Linked DNA regions of Homo sapiens. The protein of the gene in region 2 interacts with the protein of the main gene of each other region in a biochemical or structural test. Each region holds a gene or a part of one and is shown on either strand. Other genes may lie near its edges. The genes, in order: ERBB3, NCK2, PKD1 and EFNB1.

What was found.
Region 1: the proteins of NCK2 (region 2) and ERBB3 form a complex in vitro, tested with the Homo sapiens proteins (2 studies listed by BioGRID and IntAct, with this or other methods).
Region 3: the proteins of NCK2 (region 2) and PKD1 form a complex in vitro, tested with the Homo sapiens proteins (one study listed by BioGRID).
Region 4: the proteins of NCK2 (region 2) and EFNB1 form a complex in vitro, tested with the Homo sapiens proteins (one study listed by BioGRID).

The regions. Positions count from the first base shown.
Region 1 is NC_000012.12:56,083,142-56,090,187, reverse strand, and holds part of ERBB3 (receptor tyrosine-protein kinase erbB-3 isoform 1 precursor), read right to left. Parts: intron 6,875-7,046; exon of another isoform or gene 6,640-6,874; intron 6,438-6,639; coding exon 6,286-6,437; intron 5,194-6,285; coding exon 5,007-5,193; coding exon of another isoform or gene 4,876-5,006; exon of another isoform or gene 4,571-4,875; intron 3,658-4,570; coding exon 3,532-3,657; intron 2,612-3,531; coding exon 2,546-2,611; intron 2,394-2,545; coding exon 2,275-2,393; intron 2,168-2,274; coding exon 2,026-2,167; intron 1,646-2,025; coding exon 1,532-1,645; intron 1,441-1,531; coding exon 1,320-1,440; intron 1-1,319. UniProt on the Homo sapiens protein: Tyrosine-protein kinase that plays an essential role as cell surface receptor for neuregulins.
Region 2 is NC_000002.12:105,887,905-105,894,811, reverse strand, and holds the end of NCK2 (cytoplasmic protein NCK2), read right to left. Parts: intron 1,831-6,907; coding exon 1,636-1,830; 3' UTR 540-1,635; downstream 1-539. UniProt on the Homo sapiens protein: Adapter protein which associates with tyrosine-phosphorylated growth factor receptors or their cellular substrates. Maintains low levels of EIF2S1 phosphorylation by promoting its dephosphorylation by PP1.
Region 3 is NC_000016.10:2,132,883-2,139,791, forward strand, and holds the start of PKD1 (polycystin-1 isoform 1 precursor), read right to left. Parts: upstream 3,017-6,909; 5' UTR 2,808-3,016; coding exon 2,593-2,807; intron 2,370-2,592; exon of another isoform or gene 2,151-2,369; coding exon of another isoform or gene 2,146-2,150; intron 323-2,145; exon of another isoform or gene 237-322; intron 1-236. UniProt on the Homo sapiens protein: Component of a heteromeric calcium-permeable ion channel formed by PKD1 and PKD2 that is activated by interaction between PKD1 and a Wnt family member, such as WNT3A and WNT9B. Both PKD1 and PKD2 are required for channel activity.
Region 4 is NC_000023.11:68,839,021-68,842,660, reverse strand, and holds the end of EFNB1 (ephrin-B1 precursor), read right to left. Parts: intron 2,998-3,640; coding exon 2,905-2,997; intron 2,702-2,904; coding exon 2,573-2,701; intron 2,420-2,572; coding exon 2,007-2,419; 3' UTR 501-2,006; downstream 1-500. UniProt on the Homo sapiens protein: Cell surface transmembrane ligand for Eph receptors, a family of receptor tyrosine kinases which are crucial for migration, repulsion and adhesion during neuronal, vascular and epithelial development.

The DNA.
Region 1 (7,046 bases), on a different chromosome or scaffold from region 2:
TCTCTACTAAAAATACAAAAATTAGCCGGGCATGATGGCACACACCTATAATTCCAGCTACTCAGGAGACTGAGGCAGGAGAATTGCTTGAACCCGGGAGGCAGAGGAGGCGGAGGTTGCAGTGAGCCAAGATTGCACCACTGCACTCTAGCCTGGGGAACAGAGTGAGACTTTGTCTTAAAAAAAAAAAAAAAGTATATGGGGAATTTTATACCATTCTTGCAACTTTAGTGTAGATCTAAAATTATGTCAAAATAAAAAATTAAAGGAAAAAAAAAAACAGGTGGTCATAGTGGGTTTTTTTTACACACACACACACATTTTAAATGCTGTCCTATAGACTAGAAAGTCCCTTTGTTCTTTTTGCTCCAAGGAGCAGAATGAGTGAAAACAGCTAAAAGTCATGGGGAGACAGAATTTTCTTTTCTTTTCTTTTTTTTTTTTGAGAAAGAGTCTCGCTCTGTCGCCAGGCTGGAGTGCGGTGGTGTAATCTCGGTTCACTGCAATTTCCGCCTCCTGGGTTCAAGTGATTCTCGTGCCTCAGCCTCCTGAGTAGCTGGGATTACAGGCATGTGCACCACCACACCCAGCTAATTTTTGTGTTTTTAGTAGAGATGGCATTTCACCATGTTAGCCAGGATGGTCTCGATCTGACCTCGTAATCCGCCCACCTCGGCCTCCCAAAGTGCTGGGATTATAGGCATGAGCCACCGGGCCCAGCCTGGAGACAGATTTTTATCCAAATCTAAGGAAGAACTTTTACAAAACTTTAAGAAGGAGGTTGGGTGCTGTGATCCCTAGCACTTTGGGAGGCCAAGATGGGAGGATTGCTTGAGCACAGGAGTTCGAGATCAGCCTGGGCAACATAGCAAGACCCTGTCTCTACAAAAAAATACAAAAAAATTAGTCAAGTATGATGGTGTGTGCCTATAGTCCCAGCTACTTGGGATCACTTGAGCCCAGGAGGTCGAGGCTACAGTGAGTCGAGATCACGCCACTGCACTCCAGCCTAGGTGACAGAGCAAGACCCTATCTCAAAAAAGAAAAAAGAATAAAAAAGAAAACTTTAAGAAGGAGGATATGTTGTTCCTGTCCCTTGTTCCTTGGCAGGGCGATATTGAATTGCTCAAAGATGTTCCTGAGGGGACCGAAGGCCTGGATGGAGGATGTGTTAAGCATTCTTTCAGGTCCTTTGTAACAGGCTAGAATTTTATGACTTTGATTCCTAGTCAGCTCCACATAGGAAAGTTTTGGCCAATGAAATGAACTGTGAGGGGTGCGTGGGCTGGGGTCTAAGGAGGGAAGGCAGGATCTCTAACCCATTGAGGCCGGTGATCAGAAAGTCCAGGTTGCCCAGGATCTTGGTGCAGTTCACAAATCCATCAATGTTGCTCGAGTCCACAGTCTGGAAGCGGCTCCCAGAGCCTGTTCCCTCACAGGCTGCAAATGTAAGAGAGGTTCAGTGGGGGTGGTCTGCGCAGGCTCAGAGGAAAGGCTGTCTCTTTACAACTTCTTACCATCTCCTACCCACCTTTGGGACATAGTCCCCCACAAGGCTCACACATCTTGAGCCCATTTTTATCTACTTCCATCTTGTCAGGAGGACAGGCCCTGACACAGGATGTTTGATCCACCACAAAGTTATCTAGGGAAGAGGAGGAGGACACCATTAGAGATGAGGGAGGAACATCACCAGCTACCAATGGAACCCTTGCTCTGGGCCTAGGCTCCCTCCAGCTCTGCACTGGATTTGTCCCCATCTGCCACCCTAGATCCCTTAAGTGCTGCCCTATAGATTCAAAAGTCTCTTCACTATTTGTTGCTACAAGGAGCAGAAGTAAGGGTGATAGCTGAAGTCATGGGAGGACTGGACGTAAGGGTCACTCACTGGAGTGGTTAGATGATCATAACCATTCACCAATCTCCCTATTTATCACCAACTGGATTCTTTTTCCCTTCCACAATTTTGTCTAAAATCTTGGATCTACTATTGTTGATCATTGTTCCTTCCCCTCAGACACTTACGGGGACAGCTGGCTACACAAACTCCTCCATACTGATACTTGGTGTGGGGATTGGGTTCCAGCTGGAAAGTTAGCTTGTTGTAGACAAGAGGCTGTGGACAGCGAGGTACACAGGCTCCACTGTCATTGAAGTGCCGGCAGGCCTGGGAAAAAAGGAGGCTCATCAGATTTATGTTACGTGTGTACCCCTACCTCCTCCTCAAAGGCCACATCCCAATTTCAGAACCCAGGCAATGGAAAGGGTACATACAAAGCAGTCTGTGTCCTGAGGGCCTGAGCAGCCCCCGGCACACTCATCATGGCAGCACTGGTTGGGGTTGGGCCCAAAGCAGTGACCATTACACTGAGGAGCACAGATGGTCTTGGTCACTATGGAAGGAGAGAAAGCATGGCTGTTAGGGCTCCTAGGACTGAATTCTGAGGCCACTGCTCATGCCTCCCCCACAGTGTTGACCCAGGCTTGGGGAGGAAGGGATATGAAAGCGTATGAGTGAAGTTTTTGGAGGGAATTTCAAACCCACATGTCTGGCAGTCTTCTGATCCAGGACCCCAGCATCGCCCCTTGCAAACCTCATGACAGGGGGGACCTGGTTGGGAAGGAAGGCAACACAAGGGGCCATCAGGGCTAAGAAAGGCTTGTTTTAATCAACGGGGTATGATGTCAGTACACAGGCACCTCAATCCCGGGAAGCAAAAAGCCAGGGCTGTGTCCCTCCCTGCCCTTGGAGAGCAGGGCTGGGCTCAAGTGGACCTGTCAACAAGGGGCGCGGCCACGCCTCCACACCACCCACTGGGCAGCTGAAGGGGAGGGACTGGGGCAAATGCCAACCTTAGTCCTAGTCCCAACCCAGGAACTTAGTTCCTCCTGGGCAAACTGAATATATGCAGGAATATATGCATGTGAATGGTCAGGGGAAGGTGGGCTCCAAGGAAATGGGAGTATATTCTAGTGGAACGAGTAACAGATGTGGAGTCTAAAGATCTGGCTTCCCTGCTTAGTACTCAGGGATTTTTTTTTTTTTTTTTTGAGACAGGGTCTCACTCTGTTGCCCAGGCTAGAGTACAATGGCACAATCACAGCTCACTGCAGCTGCAGCCTCCTGGGCTCAAGCAATCCTCTGCCTCAGCCTCCTGAGTAGCCGGGATTACAGGTGCGAGCCACTACGCCTGTCTGATTTTTTTAATTTTTTGTAGATTTTTTGCTATGTTACTCAGGCTGGTCTTGGACTCCTGGGCTCAAGCGATCCTCCCACCTTGGCTTCCCAAAGTGCCAGGATTATAGGCATGAGCCACCATGCTCGGCCTGCTCCTTTTCTTGAAACACCTCCTCTGTGGTTTAGATTCCAGGAGACTGGAATGGTCTGCCCTGGTGGGCTGCTGAGTCAGGGACCTGAGGTGTTTGTTCACTGGGGAGGCGGGTTCAGATCAGGAATGTAAGGATGATGGAAAGAAGGGAGTCACTCTGGTTTGGTGGGACTGGGGAGCAATCTTGATCACGGCCACTTACAGCTTCTGCCATTGTCCTTCACCACTATCTCAGCATCTCGGTCCCTCACGATGTCCCTCCAGTCAATTGTGTCCATGTGACAAAGCTTATCGTTCTTCTCAATATAAACACCCCCTGACAGAATCTCTGAGGTAGGGAAAGAAGTGACAGGGTTAAGGGCCGCAGCGGAACGCCTCTTCCTTACCTCTCCACCCATCCAAAAGGACACCTGAGACTCAGGAGTGGGAGAATGAGGCAGACAGATAGGTCCAATTAAATCTAAGCTGCAGAGAAGACTCCCTTTATAAGATGAGGAGTCAGGCCAAAAGAAACTCCTGCCTCCTCAGTCACCTGTCCAGATCCGGTTTAGCTAGTGGGGGAGGGGAAGGGAGAGAGGGAGAGATTTCTGACTCAACATTCCCTCCCCCAAGCCCTGCCCATATGTTTTCCAACTGACTGGGACATGGAGAAGCAGAAGATGGACAGGTGGTTTTTAACCCCTATATTCCTCCAGCTCATAGGGGTTTGGTTTAGGAGAGTAAAGGTAGAATTCCTAGGGAAGGAGGGACATCCAGGTATACTGTACTTTGGTTTTTTTTTTTTTTTTTTTTTTTGGAGTCTCGCTCTGTCGCCCAGGCTGGAGTGCAGTGGTGCAATCTTGGCTCACTGCAAGCTCCGCCTCCCGGGTTCACGCCATTCTCCTGCCTCAGCCTCCCGAGTAGCTCGGACTACAGGCGCCCGCCACCACACCTGGCTAATTTTTTGTATTTTTAGTAGAGACGGGGTTTCACCGTGTTAGCCAGGATGGTCTCGATCTCCTGACCTTGTGATCCACCTGCCTTGGCCTCCCAAAGTGCTGGGATTACAGGCGTGAGCCACCGCGCCCAGGCTTTTTTTTTTTTTTTTTTTTTTTTTTGAGACGGAGTCTCACTGTCACTTACGCTAGAGTGCAGTGGTGCAATCTCAGCTCACTGCAACCTCCACCTCCCAGGTTCAAGCGAGTCTCCTGCCTCAGCCTCATGAACAGCTGGGATTACAGGTGCGCACCACTATAGCCAGCTAATTTTTTATTTTATTTTATTTTTTTGTATTTTTAGTAGAGACAGGGTTTCGCCATGTTGGCCAGGCTGGTCTCAAACTCCTGATCTCAAGTGATCTGCCCTCCTTGGCCTCCCAAAATGCTGGGATTACAGGTGTAAGCCATCAGGCCTGGCCTCCGGTACACTGTACTTTGAAATTAGAAAAACGGTTAACAGATCCAGCTCTGACTCCAGCCCCACAAGGACACAGGGTTCCTTTCCCTGGAGCAGATGCCCCTAGCTCCCCCTACTGGGGGCCCTCTATTGCTTAGGGAGCAATGGACCTTTAGACAGCGGCCAAGGTGACAGGCACCTTGGAAGAGGCACTTAGAGTGAGCAGTCTTGGGTCATCATCAAGGAGGTACCAGTCTTGGGCTGGCTGAGGGGTGAGGCCAGAAGGAACCATCGGGAACTGACCGGTGAGCTGAGTCAAGCGGAGCTGGCGCAGAGCGTGGCTGGAGTTGGTGTTATAGTTCAACATGACGAAGATGGCAAACTTCCCATCGTAGACCTGGGTCCCTCGCACCACGCGGAGGTTGGGCAATGGTAGAGTAGAGAATTCATTCATGGCCACGAGGACATAGCCTGTCACTTCTCGAATCCACTGTGACAGAGCAGATTATGTAAATGAGAGAGACAACAGGGCAAAATAATCTCAATCTCCTCTCCTCCTTCAGGCATTAAAGACTCTTTAACTGTTTTAATTCTTCCTTCTTTCTTTCCTTTCTTTTTTTCTTTTTTTTAAAATTTGAGACGGAGTTACGCTCTTGTTGCCCAGGCTGGAGTACAATAGTGCGATCTTGGCTCACCACAACCTCCACCTCCCGGGTTCAAGCAATTCTCCTGCCGCAGCCTCCCAAGTAGCTGGGATTACAGGCATGTGCCACTACACCTGGCTAATTTTGTATTTTTAGTAGAGATGTGGTTTTTCCATGTTGGTCAGGCTGGTCTCGAACTCCTGACCTCAGGTGATCCGAGCTTGGCCTTTTTTTTTTTTTTTGGTGAGACAGGGTCTCGCTCTGTTACGAGTGGCACAATCTCGCTCACTGCAGCGTCAAACTCCTGGGCTCAAGCAATCCTCCCACCTCAGCCCTCCAAGTAGCTGGGACTACAGGTGCATGCCACCATACCCAGCTAATTTTTGTATTTTTGTAGAGACAGCGTTTCACCACATTGCCCAGGCTGGTCTTGAACTCCTGACCTCAAGTGATCTGCCTTCCTTGGCCTCCCAAAGTGCTGGGATTACAGGCATGAGCCACTGCACCTGGCCTTAACTCTTGCTAATTCCTATTTGGGAGTAGGGAGTAGACTGTGTCACACTGCTGTGTCACTTCTGGGAGTGAAGACAGGCAGCTTTCTCCTCAAAGTGCCTCATACCAGTAGGGCCCCTTCCTCATCTCCCCAGGTAACCTCTTGGTCCTCAGGTTTCTCTCTGCACTAGTCCCTGCTGACCTTGCACTATCCACAGAACACCACCTGCCCCTGACCCTGCCCCCTATATATCCCTGGCTACAACAGTGAGACCATAGGTCCCAGATGACAGCCACTGTCCCCATAAATACACGGTTTTGAATCTTAGGAACTCCTGAGTCTTAGGAAGGGTGAACTCCAGCAGAAGGTAGCCCTGAAGAAGGAAGGAGGGTTCTAGGGGAGAATAAAGAGGAGCAGGTTGAGGAAGGAGGGTGGGCTCACTAACCTGCAGGAAGGAGAGGTCGGCATTGTGTCCCGTGAGCACAATCTCAAGGTTCCCCATCACCACCTCACACCTCTCGTAGAGCTTGTACAGTGTCTGGTATTGGTTCTCAGCATCGCCGGTCACACTCAGGCCATTCAGAGTCCCAGGACACACTGTTCAAAGCAGAGGGAAGAGTGGCTGAGGGCTGGACACAAATTCTCAGCCCATCTGCCATCCCCAAAGATCACCCCCTTGGTTGCCCTCTTCCAGTTACATTAGACAGGATCAGATGGCATTTGCCTCCAACCCTCCCACAAGCGATAGGCAGAAGCTGTAGTGGCCTGAGAGCTTTCTCTCTTCTCAGAATCCCCTTACCATTCCATGAATGGGAAGGTGAAAAGATTTCCTTTTTCAACCTGGGACCCCTCTGTGCTTCTTTTGGGTACTAAGGGGTTAACTGAGAAGGAAGACAGGGAATTTGTTTCTCTCCCTAGAAAAGAGAAGTTAGGAAAAGGCCGCAACTTTGATTACCCTCCTCTCCCCCTCCAACTAGGGCACTCACTTCTCTACCCTCATCCTGCCTCTCTCTAGGTCCTGGAATAAATATCTCTTTGGGACTAGTACACAGCCCCTATTGTGTCTACTGAGGGTGGGATGGGGGCAGAGGGTGGGGGCAGTGCCTGGGGCCACAGTCCAGCCCACAATGAGGCGATTCTATCCAGGAGGGGGGCTGCCCCACCCTGTCCCTAGACACCCCGTCCTCAGCAGCACTCCCCTCCACC
Region 2 (6,907 bases):
GGTGCACTGCCTGTAGACCTCACTTTCCCCATCTATAAAATGGGGATGATAGCAGGTCCCACCTCATGGGGCTGTGATGAGGAACAAATGGGGGCGCAGTGCATGGTGCAGAGGGAGCGCTTGATACGTGATTGGCCTAGGAGGGCACAAATGCCAAGTCATGTGACTCTGCACCCCCAGGGCCTGGCACATCAATATAAATGCTCCCGATCAAGAGGACAAATCGAGAGTTAGTCGTGGGGGACACATGGTGTGAGAGCGCTGGCTGCCAAGAGTTCAGCAACATATTTCTAAACAAATATTTTCCAAAGAGCAAAGTTCAGACCAAGCTTGAGATTCTGGGTTCCCTTGGGGTTTCACTAATTAAAACTCATTATTTCAATATACAAAAATGTGGGGGTAGAAAATGAAAACACACAAGTAATAAATGTTAAGCTCTTCTCTAAAAATGATTTCCACTCCGCAATGAGTGAATGCTTCAGTAATTACTCTCCCATGATTGAGTCTGAGTTTTCCCAAAGATAAATACACACAGAGCCTTGTCATAATACTTTTTTTTATTACAATATCCAAAAAACTGGGTATGCAAGTTTAGGGGATCTCAAGACCCCTTCTTCAATCGTAGGAATGTGCCATCTCAAGACGTTATATTTAAACTATAAAGAAGTTCAAATGTAAAGGAAAAAGAAAATGCAATTTCTTCATAAACATTCTGTGTGTCTCTTACTACCAATCACATACTCTTTTGTAAACCCTGAAAAATTTCCCTGTAAATAATATATATATATATAGTGTGTGTGTGTGTGTGTGTGCACGTGTGTGTGTGTATAAAGTGTTGGTAGCTCCCTTCCCCAAAGATCAGCTGTTTTCCTTAATCATCTGTATTAGTGTCAACAAACGGCTACAGATACATATTTCTTTGAGAATTAAATACATAATTGTGAGATTCAAACAAGCCGAAGGGCAAGAGGAAAAAGCACTATGTGGATGGCACATTTGGGGTAAATTACCAAAACATCTGTCTTTCTGAGTCACCGGTTCCCTCTTTTGCAGACTGCCTTTCCAGGAAATTCTTTATTGCAAGCACAGCCCCAAAGGCACTGGGCAGTCTCCTCACTGCCATCGCACCCGGTGGTTCCAGTATTGCTATCAGCAAACGTATCGGCTCCCTGCACAGTCCGGGAGCCATGTAAGGGCACAGGACATGGGCGAGGGCTGCTAGGACTGGGGCCATCGCACCTGCTCTGCCCAGCACGCTGAGTGCCCAGGACACGGGCGCTGCCGCTGGGTGGCCTTAGGCTCGCTCCTGCGCTCACAGGTGCCCTGCGTCTTTTTAAAGAGGGGTTCCATGAGCGGGAACGAGTTGAATGCACGAGCGCCACTTCCGATGGAAAAGGAATAATGTGAACTCGCCCTGCTCCTCCCCTCCTCTAAAGCTGGCCGGCCGGGTGGGCTCGAGTGTGGGTGTGAGGCCTGGATGGCAAATGGGAGACGAACCGACCAAGCGACCTGAACATAAAGAGAGACTCGCAGAGAAGCCGTCGGGGCCGTCCCCGCGGGAGGAGCCTCTGCCACAAGGCCGGGCGGGCAGCTCCACCGTGGGGCCCGGGAGGCGAGTGTGGGGCCGGGGCGCCGTCACTGCAGGGCCCTGACGAGGTAGAGCTTCTCCCCGTGCTCGCTGGTGAAGATGGGCGCCTTTTTGTAGTGTTCCACCAGCTCGTCCATGGTGTGGAAGCGCCGCTGCCCAATGCAGTAGACATTGTCCACGAGCTGCACCTTGAAGTGTTTGTTCTTCCCTGACGCTTTAAGGGACACGGAGAAGTCGCTGGGCTGGGGAGGAAACAGAACACAGTTACAGCCGGGCCACAGCGGGGAGCTGTGTCTAAATCCATCCACATCTCTTGTGCGTCTAAATCCAAACCACCCATTGCTCAAACACTGGGTCTCTGCTTTTTTTTTTTTTTTTGAGATGGAGTTTCACTCTTTTGCCCAGGCTGTAGTGTAGTGGCCCAATCTCGGCTCACTGCAACCTCCGCCTCACGGGTTCAAGCGATTCTCCTGTCTCGGCCTCCCGAGTACCTGGGATTACAGGAACCTGCCACCATGCCCGGCTAATATTTGTATTTTTAGTAGAGACAGGGTTTCGCCATGTTGGCCAGGCTGGTCTTGAACTTCTGACCTCAGGTGATCCCCACCCCCCTCCCAGCCTCAGCCTTCCAAATTGCTCGGATTACAGGCATGAGCCACCACGCCCAGCCGGGTCTCTGTTTTATATCTAGAACGGCATCTGATGTTCAGAAAGACCTGGAGGTAGTCCACGATTCTGAAATTCTGAACCAAAGAAAAAATAAATTCTGCTTAGCCCAGTTTCAGTGCTAAATGCGTTTTAGTTATTTGAAAAGTGCAAACTCATTATGGAATATACAGCACTTCACTATGGAATATACAGTGTTGCCCTGACTGCTCAAGAAATTTGCTGTTTTTCATTTCCCAAACTATTTTTTGATAAACTGGGAATTTATTAAGAGTGGTTTGCATGCAGGCAGTAGCTAGAAATTTTACTACTTCTGATGTCTAACCCTATTAGAAATTAAGACATCAAAATTTTTCTAATTCTTTTTTTTTTTGAGACGCAGTTTTGCTTTTGTTGCCCAGGCTAGAGTGCAATGGTGTGATCTTGGCTCACTGCAACCTGCGCCTCCCAGGTTCAAGCAGATTCTCCTGCCTCAGCCTCCCGATGTGCCACCATGCCTGGCTAATTTTTCTAATTCTAAGCATTTAAAAATATGAACAGCAGTGGAAAATTCCGGTCGCATTTTAAACATAGTTCACAATATCCCAGAGGAAGCTGAACTATGGTTTGATTACAGATTTTATTGAAAAATATTTAAATTCTGTGATGTGCCTTCTATTTCAGAATATTTTAGAAACATGTCATTATTTTAATTAAAATGTGTCTTTTATTGGCCAGGTGCAGTAGCTCACGCCTGTAATCTCAGCACTTTGGGAGGCCAAGGCAGGTGGATCACCTGTGGTCAGGACTTTGAGACCAGCCTGGCCAACATGGTGAAACCTCATCTCTGCTAAAAAATACAAAATTAGCCAGGCATGGTGGTAGTGTGCCTGTAATCCCAGCTACTTGGGAGGCTGAGGCAGGAGAATCGCTTGAACCTGGGAGGTGGAAGTTGTAAGCTGAGATCACGCCACTGCACTCTGGTCTGGGCAACAAGAGCGAAAAATCTCAAAAAAAAAAAAAAAAAAAAAAAAAAAAAAAAAAAATTGGTCTTTTATCTCATTTGCTGAAAAGCATGCAGGAAAGAAGATACTGAACGATAAATGTTCTTTGTACAAAAATATCAAGTTTTGATCAATTCATTAAATGAATAACAATTAGTTACTAACACATGCCAGGCAGGCGGTGCCCTGGATACATGTGTGTGCATGCAGGACATATGCTCTGTGACAATCTGGTGTGGGGAACAGATAAATAGAGGTGTACAGATGGCTGCACAGGGCAGTAAGTTCTATGAAAAAAAAAAAGAAAACAAACAAAAAAAAGAGTTGCATGAAAGAGGAGCATGAGATACCGCAGCTCTAAGTGTGTGAGCGTGCGCAGATGTGAGAGGGAGTATGTGAGTATTGAGAGTGTGTGAGAGTATGCGTAGCGTGTGAGTTCATCTGTGTGAATGTATAAGTGCGTGTGGGGGCAGGAGAGCCCTCTGGACAATGTGGAGCTGAGCATGTGCTCTCCGAGGCAGGGCTGGTACCTCGGACATGCCTGGCCAGTGGCAGGACCACAGCCTAACATCCGAAATTCTTCCTGGAATTCCCAGACCAGTTTTCTGCTTTTCTCAAAGCCCAGAAACTTCCTGCTCTGAGGGTCCAGCAGCTCAGCCCTGCTCTGCGACCTCCCAGCAGGACCTCCAGACAGTTAACAAAGGACTAGGCCATTGTCTATTACAGAGTTCACAAAAGCCCAAATAAATGTTTGATGAGAAGTGTGCAACCCTTGCAAAACAAGGAATCACTCCATTTCTACCAATGACAACTCAGGGGAATGAGTGTCTGAGAAGACTCAAATTGTGCAAGGCAGCTGGGCTCACCCAGCAGCCATAGCTGTTAACAGAAAAGAATGAAAGGAACAATTGTAAGTATAGTTTGTATTTATGCATGCCTCTGTCTCAAATAGACCAAATAAGAACAAACCTTTGAGGCGAAAAGCCCCATCTCATCCCCATGTGAGGCCCAGGGCATACTCCTGGATGAAACTCCAGGAAGAAACCAGAAGGTTAATCTCAGATTAGGCCTCAGCCTATAGATGATTAATATTCTGTACTAGAAGTTGTATCTTTAGGAAAAGATGAAGGGCAGTCTCACTTATAGAGTTTACTATAAGCCAGGCTCAATTTAGAGATAATGTGGCATCATTTTTAGTGGAGGCAGTATGGGAGTGAATCATGGTAGATGTAAGATACACCCAATTTTAATTAAGCCAAATGATCAACAGATGACTTTCTACATAAGGGAAATTTGCTTTTAATTCAAGCTCCTTAATTTAACATCATGGTGTGTGTGTGCCTGTATGCATGCATGAGTTGCAGCAATAAAATTTTCGCAGCAGAAGAGGTAATTTTTAATTTCGTGGGCTCCTGAGCAGAAACCTTTAAAAGTTAAGGATGTAGAACCAATTTATGCCAAGCAGGAGTGCTAAAAGTTGGGGAGTGTTCTTTAATTTAAACTAAGTAGATTTTCTGTAGGAAATCTGAAAAAGAACAATCTGTATACTAACATACACCGTTACATATGACCACTGAACACCTCTAAGTGAAGTGTGAAGATGAACTAGTTAAGATGTTCTCCAAGTGTGCTCTCAAGACCAGCAGCATGAGCATCCTCTGAGAACTGGTTAGGAAGCATATTCTCAAGGGCCAGCCATGGAAGCTCACACCTGTAATCCCTGCCCTTTGGGATGCCATGGTGGCAGGATTACTTGAGGCCAGGACTTTGAGATCAGCCTGGGCAACATAGTGGGACCCTATCTCTACATAAAATTTAAAATAATTAGCCAGGTGTGGTGATGCATACCTGTGGTCCCAGCTACTTGGGAGGCCAGGGTGGGAGGATCACTTGAGCCCGGGAGGTCAAGGCAACAGTGAGGTATGACAGGGCCACTGCACTCCAGCCTAGATGACAGAGTGAGACCCTATCTCAAAATAATTAAAAAAAAAAAAAAAAAAAAAGAAATGCAAATTCTCAGGCTCTGCCTCAACCCTGCTGTAGCAGAAATTCTGGGGTGGAGCCCAGCCATCTGTGTTTTAACCTCCAGCACCGTGTGTTTTAATAAGCCCTTCAGGGGACTCTGATGCAGTTTGAGAACTGGAAGAAAGAAAATCTGGAACAAACATCGGCAGTGCTGGAGCCACCAACAAATGTTTGGTCACCAGAAAAAGATGGGAATGCCATTTATGGGCAAAGCAGCCCATGATGGAGGGAGCTCCAGTCTGTGGATACTTTTCCAATTCTGTCCTGAGGACTCTGGCTCTGCTCCAGACATCTCTCATAGGGAATTTCCCCTGAAGGGACAGCTGGGACACTGCTGTATGGTCTCCTCCTTTCAAAGTGAGCCACCAGTCCCTGCATCTGATGGAGATGGAGTTACTCCCGACCCAAAACAACTCTGCCTCCAGAGGGAGCCAGGGAATGATTCCCATGAAAGCAACTCCATCAGTCCTATTCTCATCTGTTGCAGTCCTTCCACGGTTGGCTTTCTAGAACAGATTTCAAGAAATTGGATGAAAAAGGACCATGCCACACTTGCTCCTCAACAAGTACTAGAGTACTGATAGTATGGTAGAGTACTCTACATTTAAGCTTGTCAAAGAATCTTAACACATTTTTGAAACATGCAGTCAGGATGCTGGCTGAGGCTGCAGTCATCTGAAGGCTAGACTGGGGATGCAGGCTCTACTTCCAAGGCAGTCTGCTCACATGAACCCCTAGGGGGCTCTGTAGGGCTGCCTGAATGTACTCTCAACATGACAGCTGGCTCACCCTAGATCAAGTGACCCAAGAGAGAGCAAAGAGGCAGCCACAATGCCCATCTCGGAAGCTGCCCTCCATCGCTTCTGCCACATCTTGGTCATTAGAAGTGAGTTGCTCAGTGCAGCCCATGCTGAAGGGAAGAGGGTCAGGCTCCACCTTCTGAAGCAAAGAGTACCAAAGAATTTATGGACATCTTTTTAAGCCATCATAGATGGACAGGACACTCATTACAATTTTCTATGATTGGACTAAAACCTAACTAGACTCAGTCCCCGGGTTTTGAAACATCTCCCCTTTGATTTCTCCTCTTTAATTGCCACCTTTGTGCTACCTCCCACTGTCCGCATTTCCTACACTTTCCATCTCCAAACACTGTACTTACTTGGTATATAGTAATTTCTCTGTGCTGACTACTGGGCAAATTCTTCAAATTTTCAAACATCAGACCACTTCTTCCTGTTATGTCCTTCTATGAGTACTCCTTATAAGGAATGATTTTTCCATTCTCATAGTTTTTGAATCAATGGTTCTGGAGAATGAACAATTAGTACAACCCATTCATTTGACCCTTCTTTTCAGAAGTCATTTTCCAAGTGGAATCTAAGGACAATTAATAGGTTGGCGGAAAACCAACCTCTCTCGGGGCCTCTATCATCATTATTTTTGTTTAGGCTTTAGATTCTGTGTTTGAATACAACTAAGTGCAAGAACCCTATTTAGCTCCACATCCCCACACCGGGCTCAGAGTATCTGGTGTTCAACAAACGTGCAGACTTAAAAATTTCTAATTTTGACTACCTCTTCCATTATTCATTCCTTTAGGTAATTCTTACACCTCATCTCTTTGCAATTTGTGCTCGCGATA
Region 3 (6,909 bases), on a different chromosome or scaffold from region 2:
ACCAGCCTGACCAATATGGAGAAACCCTGTCTCTACTAAAAATACAAAATTAGCCAGGCATGGTGGTGCACGCCTGTAATCCCAGCTACTCGGGAGGCTGAGGCAGGAAAAAGCGCTTGAACCCAGGAGGCGGAGGTTGCCATGAGCCGAGATCGTGCCATTGCACTCCAGCCTTGGCAACAAGAGTGAACTCTGTCTCAAAAAAAAAAAAAAAAAAAAAAAACACATGGGTCAGGAGGGAGAAGGGTCGGGGCAGGGAGGGCAGGGCAGGCTCTGGGGTGGGGGGTCTGTGAGTCAGCCACGGCTCTGCCCACGTCTCCCCACGAAGCTTCGAGCCACGCAGAGCAGCACGTTTTGCAGTACGCCATCTTTTCCAAAAGCCACCACCTCTCGGCAGCATCATTAACCCAAGGCAGGCTGTGGCCTCAGAAGCCCCGGCTGTCCTCCACCTGGAACTGGACACAGCTGTCCCTGCTGAGCTTCAGCAGCCAGGGAGCCACAAGTGGAGAGGCACCTGCGTGAGCCCCCCAGGAAGGCTACTGGTGACACCCAGACAGCAACGCTCTTGGACCCTTGAACACCTGCCAGCAGCTGTGATCTGTGTCCTTCACCTCTCCCAGCTTGACCCCTCTTCCCTGGGGAAAACCCAGCCGTCTCCCCGAGGAGGAGTTTGCAGGGTAGACAGCAAAATGGCTGGGCTGCCCCACAGCACAGAGGGTGGCCTGGGGGGCCAGCCAGGGCCTTCACATCCTTCCTAAGGCCCTAGTTTGCCATGGGTCCCCTCACCCCACCTTCCAGAACTCTCCCAGCGGCGGCCCCAGGTGTGTACAGAACAGCACCCACCTGCCCACATGAGGTCACCCTGTGCCCTGTTGCACACTTGGGGGGCCTGGCATTCGGAATCTTGCCAGCTCAGGCTGGGACAGGCCACCAACTCCCAGGGTCCCCCTCCTCCAAACCCCAGGACCAGAGCCTAAGAGGACAACACAAGGCAGGGGCGGGGGCTCCACTGCTGTGCCAAGGGCCTGGAGAACACGGGCCTTGCTCTCCGCTCAGCAGCCACCAGCGCCCTTCTCTCCCGGACAGCTCCTGAGGGGCTGCTCTCATGGACACCATCAGGTGCTGGGAAGCAGGAACCACCAGGCCCTGGACAGAGTCCCCAGTGACCGGCCTGGCAGACAGAGGAGCCCTCAGCTACAGCATCACAAACAACGGGTGGGGTAGGTCTGATGCAATTCTGTGGGTGCTGTTGCCAGGCAGGAGGAGGCCATCTCCACAGAGACAGCCGCGAGACACACGCGTCCGCAGTCAGGGAGCGCAGGAGCAATGTGGCCCCGAGGGGCACGGGCTCCATTGGTCCAGGAGAACCCATTCTTCTCCCACCCTCGAGACCACCCAGCAAAGCCCCAAGGACACACGGCTCCCCTAAGGAAGGGTGGCCACAGGCGGGAGTGACCCAGAAACGTTACAAAACCAAATGCCAGAACCCACCCAATGTTTAGCAAGCCTGGGGATGTGCCACGTCCCCCAGGGATCCAGCACGCACCCAAGGAGACACTGTCCCGGCGAGGAGCCTGGAGCCTGGGAAATACAAGGCATCAGACTGGTCCCAAGACTCTCCCCAGCGCTGGGGACAACTGTCTGCTTATCTTAGTCCCCTCCGCCCTTTTCAATCCAACCCTGGGTCCTGGGCACCTCATAGTTCCAAACCCCTGCTATGCACATCCCGGCTGTGATGCCTGGGACAGGTCGTGTCACCTCTCCAAACCTGTTTCCTCATCTGTGAAATGCAAATCTCCACGGTCCCTATGCCTCGGATGGTCAGAGTCAGGATTCCGCATGACGACCCCCAACAGGAGCCTGGCACAGACCTGGCTCTGGGCAGCGTCTCCATAAAGGCCACCTGTTGTTTTTATCTCCCGAAAGCGAACATGACAAGGCTTTAACCCCCCACGGCAATCCCCCCTCACCCCTGTTCTCAGGATAGCCTTGGAACCCAATAGCAGAGCGCCTGAGGCCCTTCATGACCCCAGCCCACCCGCGAGCCCACCTCCCACCCTGCCCCTACCCCTCACACCTCCCGTGGCCAGCCTCCAGCCTCACGGTCTTTGCTCACACCGTTCACCCCCCTTCTTCTGGACCCACCTCATCGCCCCTTCCTAAGCATCAGCCCAATTCTTGCACATCCATCAAATCCTTTTCCAGACACCTCCTGGAACTCTTCCCTGCCGCCCCCTACAGCCATCCCCACCTCTCCGGGTACCCCGCAGCCCCAGGCCGCATCCCAATTCCTCTCCAATTAGCGACTGTTTGTCCTCCCAGCTGAGCGCGGCCTCCGCGCCCCGCCCCCGCTGGCGTCTGCAGAGCCCCCGGGTGGGACGTCTGTCTCCAGACCCGGGGTTTTTCGGCTCCCCGGGGCCGTGCCAACCGCGGCTCCAGGCGTTCCTTATTTAGCAGGGCCGCCGTGCCGCGCCGGAGCCTCGCCCTGGGAGCGTCCTGGCCCGCGTCCTGCTTCCCGTCCCGGGCCAGGGAACGCGCCCACGCCCGCCCGTCCCGCGGCCTCTCCCGGGTGCCGCTGGGCCCGCTACTCACAGCGCTGTGGCGTCCGCGGGGATGCGCAGCGCGGGACCGAGCGTCCGCAGCCCGCGGCCCGAGCAGTTGACGCGGCAGGCGGCGCCGGGCGCTGGGCCGCAGAGGCAGGGGGGCTCGCAGGGCCCGCAGCCGCGCCCGGGGCCCCCCGCCAGCGCCCCGAGCCACAGGCCCAGGCCCAGGGCCAGCGCCAGGCGGGCGGGCGCGGCGGGCGGCATCGTTAGGGCAGCGCGCGCATGGCCCCGCCGTCCCCAGGCCCGCCCGCGCGCGGAGGCCGCAGCTCAGGCGGGGCCCGCGGACGGCATGGCGGGCGCGGGGCTGGATGGGGCTGCGGCCGCGACCTGCTGCTGAGCGACGCCCGCTCGGGGCTCGGGGCCAGGCCGCTCCGGGAGCTCGGCCGCCCGCTCGGACGCTGGCGCTGCAGTGCGGGCCCCGCCGCGGCTCCTCCTCCTCCTCCCCGCGCGGCGCGGGGCGGACGGGGCGAGGGGGGGCGGGGCGGGTGCAGGCTCCGCCCCCTTCGCCACAGCGCGACCGGGCCAGCGATGAGGGACTGGCATCCGGAGGCTTCACCCTCCGCTCCACAGGGTCGGCAGCAGGGCGGGGCCTCCGGAAGCTCCGCCCCACGCGTTCCCGGGGCGCATGCGACGTGGGGCGGAGCGTCTGGAAGCTCCGCCCGTCGCACTGCAGAGTCGGCCGAGGCGCACGAGCTATTTTTCACGCTCCGCCCCGCTGCAGGCTAAAGTGCGTGGGCGGGAAGCGGTGGGCAGGGTGCCATCTGGCTCCGCCCTTCTCCTGTGGTGTGGGCCAGGCGGCGGGTTCCTCCTCCTGCAGCAGCCACAGGCTCCACCCTGATCCTTCTTCCGCGGTGTGGATCCTTCTCCCGCAATCTCCGTGCGCGGCCCGAGTCAGTACCCGCAGCCTCCCGACGCACCCGCTGGCTCCAAGCCTCCCTACCCCAGGTTTCCTGGCTGAGAGAGAGACAGAGGGAGAGAGGGGGAAGAGAGAGAACAGGCAATGGGAGGTTGATGGTGAGAGCTTATTGAAAGACAAGAGGGAGGAAACCCACATCCTTCATTCCCCATCCATTCATTTATTGCCTTATTTATTCCATTGAATCTTCACAGCTCTAGAAAAAGTGTGCTACAATTATTCCCTTTATTAAATGAGGTCACTGAGGCACAGACAGTTTAAGAAATTTGCCAGCAGGGCACAGTGGCTCACTCCGGTAATCCCAGAACTTTGAGAGGGGGAGGAAGGTGGATCCCTTGAGTCCAGGAGTTGGAGACCAGCCTGGCCAACATGGCGAGACCCCGTTTCTACAAAAATTAGCCAAAATTAGCCAAACTGGCTCACGCTTGTAGTCCCAGGTACTCGAGAGGCTGAGGCCGGAGGAGCGTGTGAGCCCAGTAGGCAGTGGCTGCGCTGAGCCGTGATTGTGCCACTGCACTCCCGCCTGGGCAAAAGAGTAAGATCCTGTCTCGAAAAAAAAAAAAATGGAAAAAAGAAAAAAAGAACTGGCTGGGAGTGGTGGCTCATGCCTGTAATCCCAGCACTTTGGGAGGCCGAGGCGGGCAGATCACAAGATCAGAAGTTCGAGACCAGCCTAGCCAACATGGTGAAACCTCATCTCTACTAAAAATACAAAAATCAGCTGGGCATGGTGGCAGGCACCTATAATCCCAGCTACTAGGGAGCCTGAGGCAATAGAATCGCTTGAACCTGGGAGGCAGAGGTTGTGCCACTGCACTCCAGCCTGGGCAACAGAGCAAGACTCCGTCTCAAAAAAAAAAAAAGAAATTTACCAGGTCACACAGCAGGTGGATGGTAAGGCTGCGATTGTATTCCAAACCCAGCTTTTAATTGCAGTCAAATGACAGACTTAAGATTCAAGGACTCCAGTGGAGGGAAGAAACAGCCACAAGAAACTGCTGCCAAATGAGCAAAACAGATTAACCAAGTCTCAATGATTGTTTGAAGGCGGTTGTGGAATAAAATGCAATTGTTTAGAAAGGATTTCTTAAATAGAAAAGACATATGTTTAAAGAAGCAAATTAGTTACCTGGAAATGAAATTCTAAACTATTTGAAAAACCATGGGGGCCGGGCGTGGTGGCTCATGCCTGTAATCCCAGCACTTTGGGAGGCCAAGGTGGGCAGATCACAAGGTCAGGAGTTCGAGACCAGCCTGACCAACATGGTGAAACCCCGTCTCTACTAAAAATACAAAAATTAGCTGGGGGTGGTGCCACGCGCCTGTAATCCCAGCTACTCAGGAGGCTGAGACAGGAGAATCGCTTGAACCCAGGAGGTGGAGGTTGCAGTGAGCTGAGATTGTGCCATGGCACTCCAGCCTGGGCAACAAGAGTGAGACTCCATCTCAAAAAACAAAGAAACAAAAAAACAAAATCCATGTGGTGAGACAGAGCAAATAAAATGTGCCAGAGATCTTGTTTGGTTCAGGGAAGAAGACGTGAGGGAAATGTTTCTTGATAAAATACAGACCTGAGGGTTTTTATTAACAGTGAATAATTGTTAGCCTAAAAGGGGGAAACTAGAAGAGGAGAAAAGAAACAAGAAAGCCAGGCCAGGCACAGTGGCTCACACCTGTAATCCCAGCACTTTGGGAGGCCAAGGCAGGCGGGTCACATGAGGCCAAGAGTTCGAGACCAACCTGGCCAACGTGGCAAAACCCCGTCTCTACTAAAAATACAAAAATTAGCCAGGCATGGTGGTGGGTGCCTGTAATCCCAGCTACTCGGGAGGCTGAGGCAGGAGAATCACTGGAACCCGGGAGGCGGAGGTCGCAGTGACCTGAGGTTACCCCACTGCACTCCAGCCTGGGTGACAGAGTGAGACTCCATCTCAAAAAGAAAAAAAAAGGCCAGGCACAGTGGCTCATGCCTGTAATCCCAGCACTTTGGGAGGCGGAGGCAGGTGGATCACGAGGTCAAGAGATTGAGCCATCCTGGCCAGTATGGTGAAACCCCGTGTCTACTAAAAATACAAAAATTGGCTGGGCATGGTGGCACACAGTTGTGGTCTCAGCTATTCGGGAAGCTGAGGCAGGAGAATCGCATGAACCCAGGAGGTAGAGGTTGCAGTGAGCCGAGATCCCGCCACTTCACTCCAGCCTGGGTGACAGAGTGAGACTCTGTCTCAAAAAAAAAAAAAAAAAAAAAAAAGACAGGAAACTGCAAACAAAGTAAGTGTGCCAGTATTGATACCAGAAAAATAAACCTAAGGCAAAAGGTGTTAAATGGGAAAAGAGTCTGTTTATCTACACATAACAGGTATGGTCTATGTAGAATATATTATGAACTGTTGTGTTCTCAAAAATAGAACATTGGCCAGGTGCGGTGACTCACGCCTGTAATCCCAGCATTTTGGGAGGCTGAGGTGGGCGGATCACCTGAGGTCGGGAGTTTGAGACCAGCCTGACCAATATGGAGAAACCCCATCTCTACTAAAAATACAAAATTAGCGGGGTGTGGTGGCGGCGCCTGTAATCCTAGCTACTCGGAAGGCTGAGGCAGGAGAATCTCTTGAACCCAAGAGGTGGAAGTTGCAGTGAGCCAAGATCACACCATTGCACTCCAGCCTGGGCAACAAGAGCAAGACTGTGTCTCAAAAAAAAACACAAAACACACACACACACACACAAAAACAAAATAGAACATCAACCCACGAAGCTAAACTGTGAAATACAAAGATTTTGAAAAACAAAGACATTGCAGGAGGGTTTATTACACCTTCCCTCGAAGAAGGATCAAGTAGACCCAGGAGGTTGACGCTGCAGTGAGCCATGATCACACCACTGCACTCCAGCCTGGGGAACAGGGTGAGATGCTGTCTCAAAAAGTTTACAGATCAATTTTTGTCTGGACACAGTGGTTCATGCCTGTAATCCCAGAACTTTGGGAGGCCAAGGAAGGAGGATCACTGAGGCCAGCCTGGACAACACAGAGAGACCCCATTTCTTTTTTTTTGTTTGTTGTTTTTTCTTTTTTTGAGACGGAGTCTCGCTCTGCCACCCAGGCTGGAGTGCAGTGGCGCGATTTCGGCTCACTGCAAGCTCCGCCTCCCGGGCGCACGCCGTTCTCCTGCCTCGCCTCCCGAGTAGATGGGACTACAGGCGCCCGCCACCACGCCCGGAGAATTTTTTGTATTTTTAGTAGAGACAGAGTTTCACCGTGTTAGCCAGGATGGTCTCGATCTCCTGACCTCGTGATCCACCCGCCTTGGCCTCCCAAAGTGCTGGGATTACAGGTGTGAGCCACCGCGCCCAGCCAAGAGACCCCATTTCTACAAAAAATACAAACAA
Region 4 (3,640 bases), on a different chromosome or scaffold from region 2:
TAGGCTGCAGCTGAAGTTCAGATCTTGGGAAGTTATTTCTATCCACCTCCAGGCGTCCTGAGGCAGGGCAGGGCTGGGCCTGCCAGCAGGTCCCAGATCTAGCCCCAGCTAGGTGGTGGCAGTACTTTGTGGACACACCCAGGTCCCCATGGGAACATCCCCTCCTCCATTAACCCTCTCTAACTGGGCCTGTGCCAGACTGGGCAGATGCCCGTGGCCTATGCCACAGAGGTGACAGGATGAACAGGGGAAATGGTCTCAGGCTCCATGACAGCAGAACAAGAGAGCAGAAAAACCTGGGGTGAGGGGAGTGGCAGGAGGGTCATAGGGCATTAAAACATCTTGCTCCACTAGGATAGCCATCATCTGCCCGTACCTGCCCCAGTCACCAGTGGTTTGAGCACAGGAAAGCGCACACACACACACCCCCACCACACACGCACGCACACAACTCTCACTCTCCATTTCCCAACATCACGACACCATTTTACACCCATTTCTCCATGTGGTTAATTTTTTTTTTTTAGTTCTCATTTTTTTCTAAGAAAAAAGCAACAAGAAAATAATTCAGAGTTTATACAAAACATCTTTACATTATTTTTTTTCCAAAAAGACTAGTATTTACACAAATGGCAACAGAAACAAAAACAAAAACCCTTCCGACTGCCACCTGGAAGGGGCTGGCTGTTCTGCTCCCTCTCCCACCTGGCACTGGGGTGGGCAGCTGGCCAGGAGGCAGTGTGGAGGTGGATGGTGTGAGGGCCAGCTCCTTCCATGGCTGCTCTGGGAGTGCCTGCAAGGCGCACTCAAGTGGCAGTCTGTTAGCAGCCGTGCTGGCAAGGAACTGGGGTCAAAGTGCACAGCGGGCTGGCCCAGCCCCAGGCAGCCTCTTCCTCTTTCCAGGCCCCAGCCCAAGACTGGGACAGCAGCAGGAGCTGGGTTGGGTGGGGGTTACCCACCTGTGCTAGGGCCCAGAAAAGGAGCAGGCCACCTGGTCTTATACCCGCTTAGGTCTCCACCCTGGGCCTCTGTTTCCCCACCAGGCCAAAGGATGCCAAAGGTAAGGAGAGAACAGGGTGGGGGGTGGGGGTGAAACTCCCAGCTCTGCAGGGCAAATAGCCACCTGGGCACCTCACCTCCCTCCACCCCCCATGAGGTCATCTGCCTGCAGCAGCTCTCCTGTTCCCCAGGCAACAGCCAATTAAGACATTAATTACCGTGAGAGTGAGGGAGGCAGGAGATGCCCAAGAATCCCACAAGGAAGGGATTTTTTTTTGTGTGTGTGTGTGTGTGTGTGTGTGTGGAAGGGTGGCAGTGACTACCCCATTGCCAGGATAAGCCTCGTAGGAGGGTCAGGAGGGGAGGGTGGGACACCTTGCCCAGTGGCACTTTCCTCTTCCCTCATGGGCGTGAACAGCCCTGGCCTGCCCCTTACCCCACCAGAAATACCAAGGAATCTATAAAAGAAATGGCATCCTATGCTTCCTGGCTGACCACATCGTGCCCCAGGCCCTCTTGTACTGGCTTGGGCCAGGCTCACAAAGCCTGGGGAGGGGCTGCCTTTTACATTTTTCCATTTTTCTTCAAAAAACAGATGAAAATGAGTTGACAGCTAAAAAATGAACACAAAAGCATTAAAAACAGTGATGATAGCGGACAAGCAGTCCTGGGAAGGTGGCAAGGGGGGCGAGGGAGGGGCAGGGCCAGGGGACTGTCTCCCTGCCTGCTGTCCATCAGTGTCCAGCCCTGCCTTCCAAGAAGGGGCGCCCCCACGGAGCCCAGAGGCCTGGCCAGAGGGGGAAGGCACAAGAGCATGGGGGTTAGGGGCACAAGCACCCCCCTCCGAAGCCCAGGGGGCAGGGAAAAAGGGGGATTATAAAAGCCAAGAAACTACAAAACTAAATACAAAGGTGGGCACAGCTGGCAAGGGGAGGGGGTGTGGGGGCGAAAGGAGAGGTCCGGTCCAGGCCGACTGTCCCTCGGGGGCCTGAGGCCGTGCCGGGCACTCAGACCTTGTAGTAGATGTTCGCCGGGCTCTGGGGCGGCATCTCTTGGACGATGTAGACAGGGTGCCCGTAGTCCCCACTCACCTTCTCATAGTGGGGGCAGTAGTTGTTCTCTGTAGTCCGTAAGGGAATGATGATGTCGCTGGGCTCGGTGCCCGCTGTGCCACTGCCCCCCTTGGGACTGGCCAGGGTACTGAGCGAGAGGGCAGCCGCCCGCTGCTGTGTGTGCTTGCGGTGCCGCTTGCGTAGCTTCAGTAGTAGGACCGTCAGGAAGATGATGATGAGCAGGAAGATGACGCAACCGGCACCGACAGCCGCGAACAATGCCACCTTGGAGTTGAAGAAGCCATCAGGGTCCCCGCTGCTGCCCCCACTTGCACCTGGGCCACTCTTCTCTTCCTGGTTCACAGTCTCTGAGGAAGGGAAAGGGGAAGGAACAGTCAGCCAGGGGTCCCAGGGACACACAGCAGATTTCAGGCCAGGCCCAGCTTGCATTTCTTCAGGGACAGGGCCTAACAAGGTGACAGAGCAATGGCTCCTGACCTCTGGGAAACACATACACTTACCATGCTTGCCATCAGAGTCACCCAGGGAGCCCCGACTACCAGGGGCCTGTGTGGCCATCTTGACAGTGTTGTCTGCCTCCTTGCTGGGCCTGCTGGTAGTCAGCTGCTCAGGCGTCACAGCATTGGGATCTAAGAATGGAGACAGAACAGGTGAGAGGCAGGGACCCGGCCAGCATAGGTGCCCTCAGTCATCAAGGGTGGGCCAAGAATGGCCTGGATACTGTAACCCTACGCCTGCTCCCCCACTCCTAATACACATGCACCCAGCCAGGAACATCTGTTCCAAAGGTCAAACAGGGTGGGGTGAGGGGACCCTCAGACTAGGCACTCACCTTGCCCAACCTTCATGATGATCTTCATGGTGCGTGTGCGGCACACACCGCCCTCCCGGTTTTCCAGCCCCTCCAGGCTTCCATTGGATGTTGCTGCAGGAAGAGGCCAGAGAAGTCAGAGAAGTCAGGAGGAGAGAAAGGTCTACTAGCATTACCCAGAAACTCCCATTCTGCTTCAGCCAACAGGGAGAGAAACTGCAGTCGGGAGAAGCAAGCAGCTCCCATCTACCAGTGAACCTTTTCATTTTCTTCCCTCCCACTAGGAACAAAATGGCCTAGTCCAGCCCAGGCCAAGAACAAGCCCCACCCCCAGGGGCACTGCTCCTCTGTCACGAGCAGGCCATGGCCCCTCGGTAAGGTCTGCCTCCTCACTGGGATCATAATGGGGGCTTCTACATAGACTGAAAGGAATTCTGGAGTAGGAATCAGGAGAACTGGGTTGGAGTCCTGACCCTATCTCTAACTCACTGTGTGATCTAAGGCAAGAAGTCCCTTCACCTTTTGGGGCCTTGGTTTCCCCTGAAGAAAAAGGCTGAATAGCTGGCTGATCCCAAAGGGCCTGGCATATGTTACCATTCCCAATATTAGAACTTAGGTGGGCAAAGAAAATAAGAGAGAAGCAACACGAATTGGAGACCTCTCCTGCCCAACCCCTGGAGCCAAGGTGAGCTTGGTAAATGTTGGGGCGAGAATTCCAAGGCCAGGCTAAGAGGAGAACATGCCAGTCTTCAAAGGG